Regions from separate parts of the Homo sapiens genome. Here all the other regions are linked to region 2. Evidence: fine-mapped expression QTL. A gene starts in region 2. Each other region holds a variant in brackets. All regions are shown on one strand. Distances are between the middles of the regions.

Region 1 (4,245 bases), 170 kb before region 2:
CTTCATGATTGATTGGAAATATCTGCAAATACACGTGTCCTGAGAGGTGAATGAGAAATGTGTGCAGTTACTGTTTTCCCAATGAGTCTATTTGTCCTTGTGGAACAGTTTAGGGGAGAGTAGCATTGAGGAAACAAAAATGGCCCAGGGATCTTGGAAGCTCTATGTGTGAGTATATTCCTCAGTTTTCAGATTTAGGGGATTGGGGAGGGATGTGGAAAGCATAGACAGAAGGCACTGCAGAAGAGGAGAGTAAATGACTTTAGGTCATTGAACTGGTTTTTGATAGAAATCAAGTTAAGAAAAATAGAAGTCAATAGTACTAAGTTTGAACTTTATCTTTCTAAAAACTGCTTCTGTGGGCAGAGTTCATATGCTGGAGGAATGAATCATAATGACACCCTTTGGTATGACCCTGGGGAGAATAAATGTGACTTAGTTGAGGTTTCTGAGGATGACATTCAGAAAGAAAACAAGAGAGGGAAATACCCTTTCTCTCTGTCACACTCTCAGGTTAGAAACTCACTTTAGGGGCCACAGCCTATGACAAATACACTCATGCAAATTCTGTGCTTGCTTCCATGCTCCATTTCTTTGCCAACTATGTAGCTAAGCAAAATGGAACAAGAAATAGTGTCTTGGGAGAAATAAAATTGCTGGATTAGATACAGGCCACCTTTATATAAGAAAAAACGTTAAATTATGCTACTGGTGAAATAAGTCCATTTGGGTTATTGTGGAATTTTATGTGAGACTGAGATAGCTGATTAAGATGGTGATGCTTGAGTATTATCATTTTAGTAATAAATATTTCCAGAATCAAAGTGAATAATATGTAGGGAAGAGGGAGGCAAACTGCGGCCATGGGCCAGCAGCCTGGTTTTTTGTTTTGTTTTGTTTTATGGCTCTTGAGCTAAGAATAATTTTTAAATTTTGAAGTGGTTACATTTTATTTTATTTTATTTTTTTAGGCTAGTCTAGTGAATACATTTTAAATGCTTATACAAGCACTGAGTGATAGCCTCAATTTTGCCTGTTGGCTCACAAAGTCTACAATATTAATTAACTGTATCTTCTAAAAAACAGTTTGTCAGCCCCTGGGACAATAAATAGTAGATATAGCCTGGGCATGGTGGCTCACACCTGTAATCCCAGCACTTTGGGAGGCCGAGGCAGGTAGATCACCTGAGGTCAGGAGTTTGAGATTAGCCTGGCTAACATGATGAAACCCTGTTTCTACTAAAAATACAAAAAATTAGCTGGGCGTGGTGGCACGTGCCCGTAGCACCTGTAATCCCAGCAACTTGGGAGGCTGAGGCAGGGGAATCACTTGAACCTGGGAGGCAGACGTTGCAGTGAACTGAGATTGCACCGTTGCACTCCAGCTTGGGCAACAAGAGTGAAATTCTGTCTCAAAAAATAATAATAGAAAAAAAGAATGTATAGTCTCCTGGGTCAAAGAGATCTGAATTTGGATTTTGCCTAGATACATCATTAATTCATTTCAAAATACTTATCAAGTAGGTATTCTTTCTTCACTTGGCTTCCAAGATGCCACCCTCTCCTAAATTTCCTCCTTCCTCACTCACCAATTCTTATCAATCTTCTTTGCCAGTTGCTCCCAGTCTTCCTAATCTCTCAGCACCAAGACCACAGCTCAGGTCTTGGCCCCACTCCTCTTTTCCGCCTGTACTCACCTGGTGCTTGTGCCGAGAGTTCATTCTTCCCATTGTATTTACTAACACCAATGTGCTGATGACTTCCAAATTTATACTTTTAGCCCGGATCTCTCCCTTAAACTCTACAGTCGTAATGCAACTGTCTTCTTTAATATCTCCATTTGATGATGAACATATATCTCAAACTTAAC[A/T]TGCACAAAATGGAGCTTCTGATCTTCATCCCCAAACCTGATTTTTCTAGAGTCTTCCTTGTATTGGTAAATGATAACTTCATTCTCCCTGTTATGTCAGTTTCTTCATTGGAAATGGGCATAGAACCTGTCTCAGGGCTGATATAAAGAATAAATGAGATAATATAGTGTTACCGCTACTCATAAGACCTACGACAGTCAGCATTCAATAAAAGTGAGGAGAGGACAGCATAACCTTTCCATTCTTTCATCTAATGGCTCTGTTCTTTCCTTCTCTTTCAGACCCTTACTATCTTATCCTAGAACCATTACAAAAATTTAGTAACTGGTAGCCTTGATTTAGTAGTAAAGTGGTAATTATAGAAAATATTATTCTCCCCATTTAAAGATGAGGAAAATGAAACAGCCAAGATGCCCTAGTCCCACCTCCTAGCAAGCACCAAAGTTGGAATTTAAACATCAGCCAACTGAAAAGCCAGTGTTCTCCAGGCTCATCCTCTGCAACACAGCCTTCACCAGCTTACTGTCAGGTGAAGCGCACACCCTACAAGGCTAAATATGACAACAAAACAGGGTAACTGGACTATGGGAGACAAGAGTAGAGGTTCCTCAACTGAGCTAACATATCAGAATTCTCTGAAAGTTTTATGCAGATTCCTGAGCTTTGCACTAGAACTACTGAATCAGGTCGGGCCCAAGAATGTATAAATTTTTAGAGCTCCAAAGGCATTTTTGAGCAGTCAGATTTAGGCGCTCCTGCTCTAGGTTTTAAAAGGAAGATTTCCTAATATTTAGAGCCAATAAATATAATACAATCATCTACAACTCTCAAAGAGAGACGAAAAACCAGATTTTCCAATATATAAATGGGCAAAGGGCATAAAAGGAGGATTTACAAAAGAGGAAGCAAAATGGTTAATAGAAATATTTCAAGTTATGAGACCTACTTATATTCAAATAATACAAACTTCTAAATGTTAATAAAATGCCATTTTTAGCTACCAAATTAGCCAAGTTTTTTTTAATGCGAATACAGTATTCCTGTGAGTATGTGATGAGATGGGCACTTTCATAAACTACTGAGAAGGCAAATATTGGAGGTACCACTTTGAAAAGCAATTTGGTAGCATGTACCAAAGTCTTGGAAATGTCAGTAGTCTTTAATTCAGAAACTCCCTTATATAAATACATGCAATAAAATAATCCAAAAGCAATGAAAAAAATATGTACTGCACCTAAAAGACATTTATAACAATCATTTACAAAAGCAAAATAAATAAAAATAAGTGAAATGTTAAAACAAGAGAAAATGTGAATTATTCAGCATCATTGATTATTAAGCAGTTATCAGATCTTTCAGAATACACTATATTATTTCATTTTACACAAATAAATAAATATATATGCCGGGGGAAAAGTTTGAATGTCCTTACACCAAACTGTTAACAACAGGGTCTGTAAGTGGAGCATAATATTGTTCTACCCATATAAATTTGTTCAGACAAATTATGCTAAATCCACTACTCAAAATATGATGTTTCTTCTTTTTAGAAGGTTCTACCCTGCTTTCTATGCTGGTAAAATATTTTTGTTTTGAGAACTAATGCAAGTGTCATCTCCCCTATAAAATCTAAGTGTTTTTTACCCAAGCAGTGATCCGTTTATCCCCTTTATTTGTTAGCATAGATTACCTTTATTTTAGCACTTACTTGCTATTCAAAAATTATCTGTTGCTGTATTTGTTCCTCCCAGCAGACTATGAGCTGCCTGAAGGCAAGATCTGGGGGGTCTTACGTGGCCAGAAGCGTTTATTAAATTAAATTCCTTGAATGATAGAAAGAAAGCTCAATGGAAACCTTCCATTTAGTGTCTGTGACTCCATCACAAAGAATGCTGTGCAAATTGCTAAGAGGATAGATAACTGTTTTTACCACCAGAAAAAAAAAGAGAGAACAGAAAATGGTAAATAGTTATCTCATGTTGATGAAATGGTGGATATATTAATCACCTTGATTATAGTGTTTATTTCAAAATGTATATGTGTATCAAGACATCAAGCTATGCACCTTAAATATATACAATATTTGTTTATCAATTATACCTCAATAAATAGGAAAAAAAAATGTGAAAGACTTTTGGCTTCTACTTAGGATATAGAAAGCAGGAAAGAGTAGCACTCCTAGAAGTACTAGAAAATAATGCTAAAGAATCTGCAGATTCACAGCTCTTTATTTTTATTTATTTATTTATTTATTTAAACTAATCAGAGAACTGAGGTCGCAAGACAACAAACTGGTCCTAAATAAAAAGTAAGAAAAATGCCGGGGAGGAGCCAAGATGGCCAAATAGGAACAGCTCCGGTCTACAGCTCCCAG
Region 2 (4,245 bases):
CCAGTAAACACATTCTTTTCAAGGCTTAATATTAAAATAGTATCAAATTCTGATCTAATCTGGATCAGAAGAGAAAATACTCCAACCTACCATTGTCAACCGCAACACTGGTTGTGTTTAATGGTGATGGAATTCTGTCACTTCCACCAACACTTTTTGAGCATTCGCTGCATGCGGGGCATTCTGGTGTATACTGATAAGAAACAACAACCAAAGATAATTAAGATTGACCTCACCCTCCGAGATGTTTACAGTTTACTTTGCTTCCCTAAGCTTCAGTTTTTCCCTCTGCCAAAACAGAAGCTCGGAAGAGATGTCTCCAAGACACTTTCTACCATGACCTTTTGAATTTCATAACTCTCTAATTCCAGAATTCAAAGAGTGACTGTTTTACCTCCCACTGAATGATTCCTCTGAGAAAAAAGCTCTCTGCTAGCTAAGCTAGCCAAGACACCATACCTGAAGATAATACCTAAACTTCTGTTTGTGTCCCAGGAATCCCAAATTGATGTCACACCAAAACAATGTCATTTATACAATTCATTATATGTCACTCATTAATACATTTGCTTAGTTGATTTTCATTAAAATCCTGCAGGGAGCATTATTACACTCATTTTTCAAAAGAGATAACTGAGTCGTAAAAGGATTAAATTATTTGCCCAGGTCACACGGAAAGAAATTAACGTGGCCACGGCATAAAACCAGATTTTCTGTTTTTAAACATATTTTTTTCGCTGACCTCCACCCTGTAAGAGCTTTTATTACCAAGCGATTGAGAAGCACAGGCTCAGGGACACTGAATTTGACCAAAGAAGCCAATAGAACTATTCCAAAAACCTATGGTTCCCCCTAAAGCATTAGAAAGACTCAGAACGGGTTAAGTGCTCCCTGGCTCATTCCCAACAGACACTACATTCACCTGTGCTTGCTCTGAAATAAATCAGTGTCCCTTTCTGCTGCTGCTGTTGTCTGGAAATAATGCAAATGCAATGGGCCTTTACTGACATTGTGCTTCCCTGGAAGGATACACATAATAAATTATCCCTTAATACTGTTAAAGAGACATTTTCCTCTTACTCAGGAGCTTTTGGGGTTGGACTGGGCTACTCACCCAGCAAGGAGGAGGACATGTGTCTTGTCACTGGCCCGGTTATTCATGTGGCCTCTCATTGCTCCTTGGCTCACTGCATTGCAAGATTCAAGGATGCACTTCCAGGCCTCCACATCAAGTCATAGGACTTGCCGGTAACCTAGATTGGTTTTCTCATTTGTAATTTGAATTTATTTTATGTTATGCATTTGTATGTTTATTTATTCGGATGCTCAGAAGCTGAAGATAACTAGTGCTCCTGGTCCATGCCATTCATCAATTGGAAGAATGCCAAGCTGTTTCCGCTGAGGACAGAAGGCATTGGTCTCCCCTGCAGGAAGCCACTGCTGCTCCTTAATTGTTTGCTAGAGGAAGAATCAAGGGTAAAATTTAAAGTAAATGGCTGGCCGAGTTGCACTAATTCATCAAAGCATGTTTCAAGTCAGTAGTCAGAGCATGCATCAGCCCCCGGCGCCACCAGCTTCTACGAGAGTGGAAAAGCCAGCAGACCTCCGAGCAGATGAAATCATTAGGAGGCATTCAGCAGGGCTTGAAAAGCAAAGAGAGAGGAGGCGGGGATTTCTCTGCATGCTCCCTTTGCCACATGGGAAACACCAGCTGTCTGTGACCTAGTTATCCAAGAAAGGAAACACGGAAGAGAACCCACAAAACTGTTTGCTACATGAGAACCCCATTCTCCAAAGACATGCTGGATGTTGAGAAAACAATTAGCATCTTCTAGTTTGACTCTATTTTTTTTTTTTTTTGCTTAGAGATTTTTGGTAGCAATAAAGACAAGCCCTATTACAGTAGCCTAAGAAAATGGAATTTTTAGGGATAGCCCATGGATAGGAAGTAAAAATCTTGGTTCATGAAAGATGGGAAGTAGGAACTGGAATGTTTTTGGAAAATCTATCAGCATCTCACCTCTTTCTCTTGCTCTCTCTCTCTCATTACATGGCCCTTTATTTGTGCAACAATTCATTTTCCTACTTCTCTATGAAGGTCTCTCTTCTTGCTTTTAAGCATGAAGCCACTCATTCATTCAGTAAATATGTATTTAATGCTAACAGGTGCTGGCACTGCCCAAGATGCCAGGGCTACAGCAATCAACAAAACAGACAAAATCCCTGCCCTCGTGAAATGTACACTGTGGTGAGGCAGGTGAGGCAGGCAGAAACTGAACAAGATAAATAAGTAAAAGATACAGTGTGCAAGAGGGCAGTGAGTGCTTGGAAGAAAAGATCAAGGGAGGAGAAGTGAAATACTGGCAAAGTAGTTGAAATCTTAAATAAAATGGTCATGGGAGACCCCACTGAGAAAGTCATTTCTGAGTGAAACCTGAAGGAAGTAAGAAGTTAGCATTGCAATTGTCTGGGGCAGAGCATGCTGAGGAGAGGGAATAGCAGGTGCAAAGGGCCTGGGGTGGTTCAAGGAGCTAGCAGAGAGGCCATTGAGGAAGGAGGTTAAGCAAGTGAGGGGGATTAGTTAGAGGTGAAGTCATAGACCTGGGGGCACAGATCACAAAGCGTTTTCTAGGTCATAGTGAGGACTTTGGCTTTTACTCTGAGTGAGATCAGAAGATCCCAAAAGGCCACCACAAGATGATATTCACGTGGTCCACCTAATCCAGTAGTCAGTCCTTATTGCTAACTTGCACACAGTCAAGCTCCCTTAGTCTCCAAAAGAGGAGATCCAAGCAACGATACTTCATGAGCAGTCGGCTTCGAGAGTCATCCTGAGTTTTCAAGGCTGACACAAATATCAGTCTAACTACGCAGTCCACCTGTGTAAATATTTGGGGAATAGTGGATGGTTAAGGAAGAGACCTAGTATGAGATAAAGTGTCCAGGCCCTGCACACATTTGGGTCTCACAGAATTAACTGGCAAATGCTAGTAAGAGTATCAGGACCTTAGGAAATAGAGATTCCTTTAGAAAACTCTAATTCCCAGAAAGATTTTCACATAAGACCTTCACACAAAGACAAAATTAGAATGTGTGTTCTCTCACCATCTCCTTATCCAGAGAGTCCTTAGATGTGGCAGAAGGACCCACAAGAGTTGTCAGAGGCAGTTGTGAGGGGTTGCCAGTCATGTTAGTATTAATAGATATCATGAGAAGTTAGACACGTTTTTGAATAAATTAGAATGAATTAAATATTAACCCAAAATGTCATTATGCTCACTCCCTACCCTCCCACTATGCTTTCCTGACAGAGAAAGAAAGGGTGGCACTGTGGCTGGAATACAGAGCCCACAGGACTTCAGCATGTCCTACACATAAACCTCCTCCTTTTTGTGACCCTTGGTGGAAAAAGTATGAGAGCCACGTATCTTAGAAATAACTGCCTTTCCTCCCTAGATGCCTGCCACAAAAACAGACATGTTCTAGAACTTTCTTCTCCCTAGTTCCAAGAACACTGAACTCATGGTAATGGCCAAACAATGATCTTTTTCTAAGGACAATGTCAGAATGCTTTACTGTGCCATTTTCATAATCAGACACAAGAAAGTTACCATCTGTAGTTCAGCCATAGCACTTCACATGAAAGAGGAAATGACTAAATATATATTTACATAGCTCTCATGAATATGCATTTTGTAAATGCACAAATATGTACAATTACTTGATAGACTGTTTTGGTTCCTATCTTTCGAATATTTAATACAACTGTAAATGTTTAATTCATATTTACTGAGTTGATTGAACAGTTTCTAAATTATCCCAAGCCTTGCTGGAAACAAGATTGAATGTTTCCAGCATATTTGCACACTAGGATTTGGCCAGGAGAATCCACACTAACTGGTTAAATGATGATTTTCTTAGAAAGCATATTGAATAAGCTGCTGGTGAAATCATCTTGCTGACCACAACATAGAGGGACAGCACCAGATCTAATTCCAACCATGACCTGCAGAGCCTCTCATGACTAGGCCCCCCTGATGCCTCTTTGCACCTCTGTCTGCACTGCCCCTCATTGCTAAGCCACAATCAACCCATGTTCCACTTTCAGTCCTCTGCACCAGCTGCTCCATGTGTCCAGAATGCTCTTCACATAGACATCAAGCCTTTGCTCTAATGTCACCTTTTCAATGAGGTCTATCTTAACCTCTGCATTTGAAATTGCAATCCCATCATCCCCCAGAACTC
Region 3 (4,245 bases), 39 kb before region 2:
CCTGCACATGTATCCCCTGTATCTAAAATAAAAGTTGAAATTAAAAATAAATGTTAACTAATATTTATTGAAGGCACACTGTTTTATTTATTGAGAGTATACTAGTATTTATTAAGGGCCCTGTGTCAGGCTATATATATATATATTTTTTTTTCCCCCCAACGCCTCTGAGTCAGGTAATATTAGTTTCCTCATTTTACAGATGACAAAAATAAGTCATAGTACCTTGCCCAAGGTCTGACAGCTAGCAAACGGGAGAGCTGGATTCTGAACACAGGCAGGCTCCAGAACTTAAAACTACTATGCAATATTGCATAGTAGTTGCAGAACTTAAATAATAGTACTATTGCATAGTGTTATGCAATAATTCATAGTATAATGCAGAACTGAAAAATGCTGTCACAATATCACTATGTTGTGCTAGTCATTGCACATTCTCATCTCTTCTTCTGGCTGTAAGCTTCTGAATAGGTGGGAATGAGTTGCATTGTATCTCCTGTCTTTGGTACAGTGTCCTATTCATGATAGAAAACATGCTTAAAAGAACTAGAAAGACAGGGAGGAATGGGATGACACCTGCATTTTGGCAGATGTTTTAAAAATTCTGGAAACCGAAGGAGCAGTTGGCCAGTCACAGGCTGTGTGTGCACATGTGCTTGACCACTCTCTCTATTCCCCTCTAGTCAGAACTTAAACATCTTTTCATGGAGCTCTGCTGTGGAAAGCCTAGAAATACATTCTACTCTCTCTAAAAGCAACAACTAAAAATACACAAATTAGCCAGGTATGGTTGTGGGCACCTATAATCTCAGCTACTCGGGAGGCTGAGCCAGGAGAATTACTGGAACCTGGGAGGCGGAGGTTGCAGTGAGCTGAGATCATGCCATTGCACTCCACCCTGGGCAACAACAGCGAGACTCCATCTCCAAAAATAAAACAAAAATTGAGAACATAATCCACAGGAATGAATCTCCAGTGTAAGAATGGTGACACTAAGATATCCAAGAGAGGGATCTTAGACTCAGGACAGGTTATATGCAAAAGACAGTTTACAGCCTTAAAGGTTATAGAATCCAGCCTGCTACTGAGAAAGCAAAGGCTAGAGACATCCCAAGATGACACAGTGGACGACCAAATGCTCACCACTGTTTTCTGGGGCTCTAACTCCAGGCTGTTGATTCTCAGGAAGGGTTGTTTTTCATACTGCCCTTTCAAATTACAGCACCTTTGCTGCCTCCATCTAAAACTGGCCCTTCCAACATCTCATCAACTTTTACATTCTGATGTCCCCATTTCAGAGAGATTTCTTTGAAACAGAGCCAGCCCTTCCAGTAAGCATATATAACAGAATGGTGATTTCAGAGAGTGGAGCCTGGTGGAAACAAAACCCAGACATGTAAAATTTGACACCTTAACCGACATAAGTGCCCACATTCCCTGCGTTTTCCCACTCTCTGCCTCACCCCACCTTCAACATGCCCATAATTTTATTCTGAGGAAAACCACAACCAGCACTTACCACCAGAGTCCAAATTCCCTGGCAGCAGCCTTGCTTTTAAAAGGGAGACATAAAAAAAATTGTCAAGACCTATGGGGCTTCCTAACACATTAAAAAGGCCCTCAAAAACTGTGTTACACCAAGCATAATATTATCTTTTTCTTTAAGAGATTTCTTAATTGGTTCCATGCAAAAGGTTTGTAGGTAATGGGTTTTAAATAAATAATAATGTTCCACCACCCTGACTGGCCAAGAAAGTAAATGCCTTTTTCCCTGACTTGGGTAAGCACTGGGATGGAAAAAAGGCCTGTGTGAAAATTTTGGCCTCACCGTAAAAAGGCAAGACCTCAATCTGGGGACTCAGATGTAATCAACCATGGTTTAGTTTCAGTAATTTGGTTGCAACAATTATTTGGCAAGCATAGTGCTAGGTATTGGTGGGACGGAGATGACAGACTGTATAACTGAATGCTCAGAATAATTAAGTTAAATGTATTTATTTTATTTATTTTTTATTTTTATGTTTTTGAGATGGAGTCTTGCTCTGTCACCCAGGCTGTAGTGCAGTGGCTCAATCTCAGCTCTCTGCAAGCTCCGCCTCCCTGGTTCAAGCCATTCTCCTACCTCAGCCTCCCAAGTAGCTGGGACTACAGGCGCCCGCCACCACACCCGGCTAATTTTTTGTATTTTTAGTAGAGA[C/T]GGGGTTTCGCCGTGTTAACCAGGATGGTCTCGATCTCCTGACCTCATGATCCGCCCACCTTGGCCTCCCAAAGTGCTGGGATTACAGATGTGAGCCACCGTGTCTGGCCATTAAGTTAAATTTATTAATAATTAACAAATACGTTAATTAATATTGAATAAAGGAATTTTATTTGGGCTTCAGTCTTTCTGGGCTCCTCACAGTTACAAAAATACAGCATACCCTTCTGGTTCTCAAGGAGTTTCCAATGCAGATCTCTGATCTGGAGTGCCTCTCTTCCTTTTTGCCCTGAAGGTAGTCAGTGAGGCTCATCAGAAATTTTCTGATTCTCTTCCTTCCAGATACCTCCTTATGCTTTTGAACTCAATTGTTGCCATGGGCTTGATTTGGCCAGTGAAATGTAAGTGAAAGCAATGTTTGTCTCTTCAGGTAGAAGCTGAGAGCCAGTGCTTACTGTTGTTTCATTCTCTCTCTTCCTCTTGTCACTTTCCAAATGGTAGCGGCCCTATCAGCCTGGGTCCTGGCATGAAGAAACACAAAGTAACACTCTCCCAAATTACCCATAACAGACATGGAATACGGAAGAAATAAATCTTATTATGATCTCAAGTTCTGAGAGCTGTTTGTTACACAGCGTAGCATAACCTAGACTAACTGATTTTTACCTCATCTACCCATTTACCATTTACCTAACTCTAATCATCCTTCAGCTCTCTGCTTCATGGTTACTTCACAAGAGCTTCATAAGATGCCAAAAAGTTCATTTCAATAGTTTCCAAAGCTTCCTCAATATAATGCTTATCATGATATTAAGATTGTTAGTTAATTTATTTATAGCCCATGATTGGTTATGAGCTCCTTGAGAGAAGAGTCTAAGCCTCATACACAATCTTATCTTTAGTCTATAATGTAGTGCCTGATATAAAGTGCTATGGTTTGAATGTATGTGCCCCTCCAAAATTCATTTTGAAACTTACACAACACTAGTAAAAGGTGAGGCCTTTTGAGTGTGATTAGGCCATGAGGACTCTGCCCTTATAGATGAGATTAGCAACCTTATAAAAAGACCAGAGGGAACTAGCTAGGCCCTTCTGTCCTACCTCTTCTCTTATGTGAGTACACAGAGTTCATCCTTTTTTGTCCCCTTCCACTGCAATGAGGGCACAGTAAGAAAGCTCTGTCTTGGAAGGAAAGAGTAGCTTTCACCAGACACAGAATACACAGAATATACTGGTGCTCTAATCTTGGACTTCCCAGACCGTATAACTGTGGACAATAAATGTGTACTGTTTATAAATTATCCAGTCTCTGATATTTTATTATAGCAGCACAGATAACTAAGACAGAAATTGGTACCAAGAAGTGGGGTGTTCCTATAACAAATACCTGAAAAATGTGGAAGTGGCTTGAAATTGGGTAATGTGTAGAGACTGGAAGAGTTTGCAGAATCAGACTAAAGAAATAGCCTGTATTTTCATTAACAGAGTATTAAAGTAATTCTGGTGAGGGCTCAAATGAAAACAGCTGCAGAGAGAACCTAAATTATCCTAGAGACTAAGTGGTTGTAAACACAGTATTCATGGAGATACAGACAGTGAAGGCCATCTTGATGAGGTCTTAGGTGGAAATGAAGAACAAGGCATTGGAAACCGGAGGAAACGTCATCTTTGTTATAAGTTGGCAGAGAACTTGGCAAATGGTGCCCATGTTCTAATGTTTTGTGAAAGGCAGAAGTTATAAGTGATATACTGGGATATTTGGCAGAAGAAATCTGTAAACAAAGTGTTGAGAGTGCTGCATGACTGTTTATAGGAAAAGACGAGAAGGGAGAAACAACTTAAAGACACAGCTTATAATCAAAAGGGAAGCAGAACTTAAAGCGTTGGACAATTCTCAGCCCAGCCATGTAAAGAATGGAAAGGTACTGTTTTGGAGAGAATAATCCTAAGGGTGAGGCCAAGTGACTCTTTGACAAATAAATTAGCATACCTAGAAGGAAGCCAGATGCTATTCCATTAAGACAATGGAAGAATGACACCAAAGTCAT

Which allele goes with the higher level. Positions count from the first base shown, and alleles are read on the strand shown. Sizes are in standard deviations (SD) of each study's normalised expression. Not every link is listed here.
With allele T in place of A in region 1, the expression in iPS cells of the gene that starts at base 2,526 in region 2 is higher (large effect, 1.9 SD a copy in HipSci).

What was found. PIP is the estimated chance that this variant, and not a neighbour inherited with it, causes the effect. A credible set is the group of variants that fine-mapping cannot tell apart.
Region 1: its variant is the best candidate, but not a certain one, in a credible set for the expression of CASC8 in iPS cells (HipSci, PIP 0.71).
Region 3: its variant is the best candidate, but not a certain one, in a credible set for the expression of CASC8 in transverse colon (GTEx, PIP 0.57).

Annotation. Positions count from the first base shown.
Region 1 is chr8:127,307,383-127,311,627 of GRCh38, forward strand. The region is part of intron 1 of CASC21 (cancer susceptibility 21); the gene reads left to right. All of the region lies in intron 5 of CASC8 (cancer susceptibility 8), which reads right to left. Among named protein-coding and RNA genes, the nearest start is that of CASC21, 65 kb to the left of the region's middle. RefSeq lists an enhancer at 298-347. The variant A/T (reference allele first, on the strand shown) is at 1,871.
Region 2 is chr8:127,479,614-127,483,858 of GRCh38, forward strand. It overlaps CASC8 (cancer susceptibility 8), which reads right to left and starts at 2,526. Exons shown (of 6, transcript NR_117100.1): 1 at 2,021-2,526; 2 at 1,115-1,458; 3 at 91-193.
Region 3 is chr8:127,441,003-127,445,247 of GRCh38, forward strand. All of the region lies in intron 4 of CASC8 (cancer susceptibility 8), which reads right to left. Among named protein-coding and RNA genes, the nearest start is that of POU5F1B, 27 kb to the left of the region's middle. The variant C/T (reference allele first, on the strand shown) is at 2,198.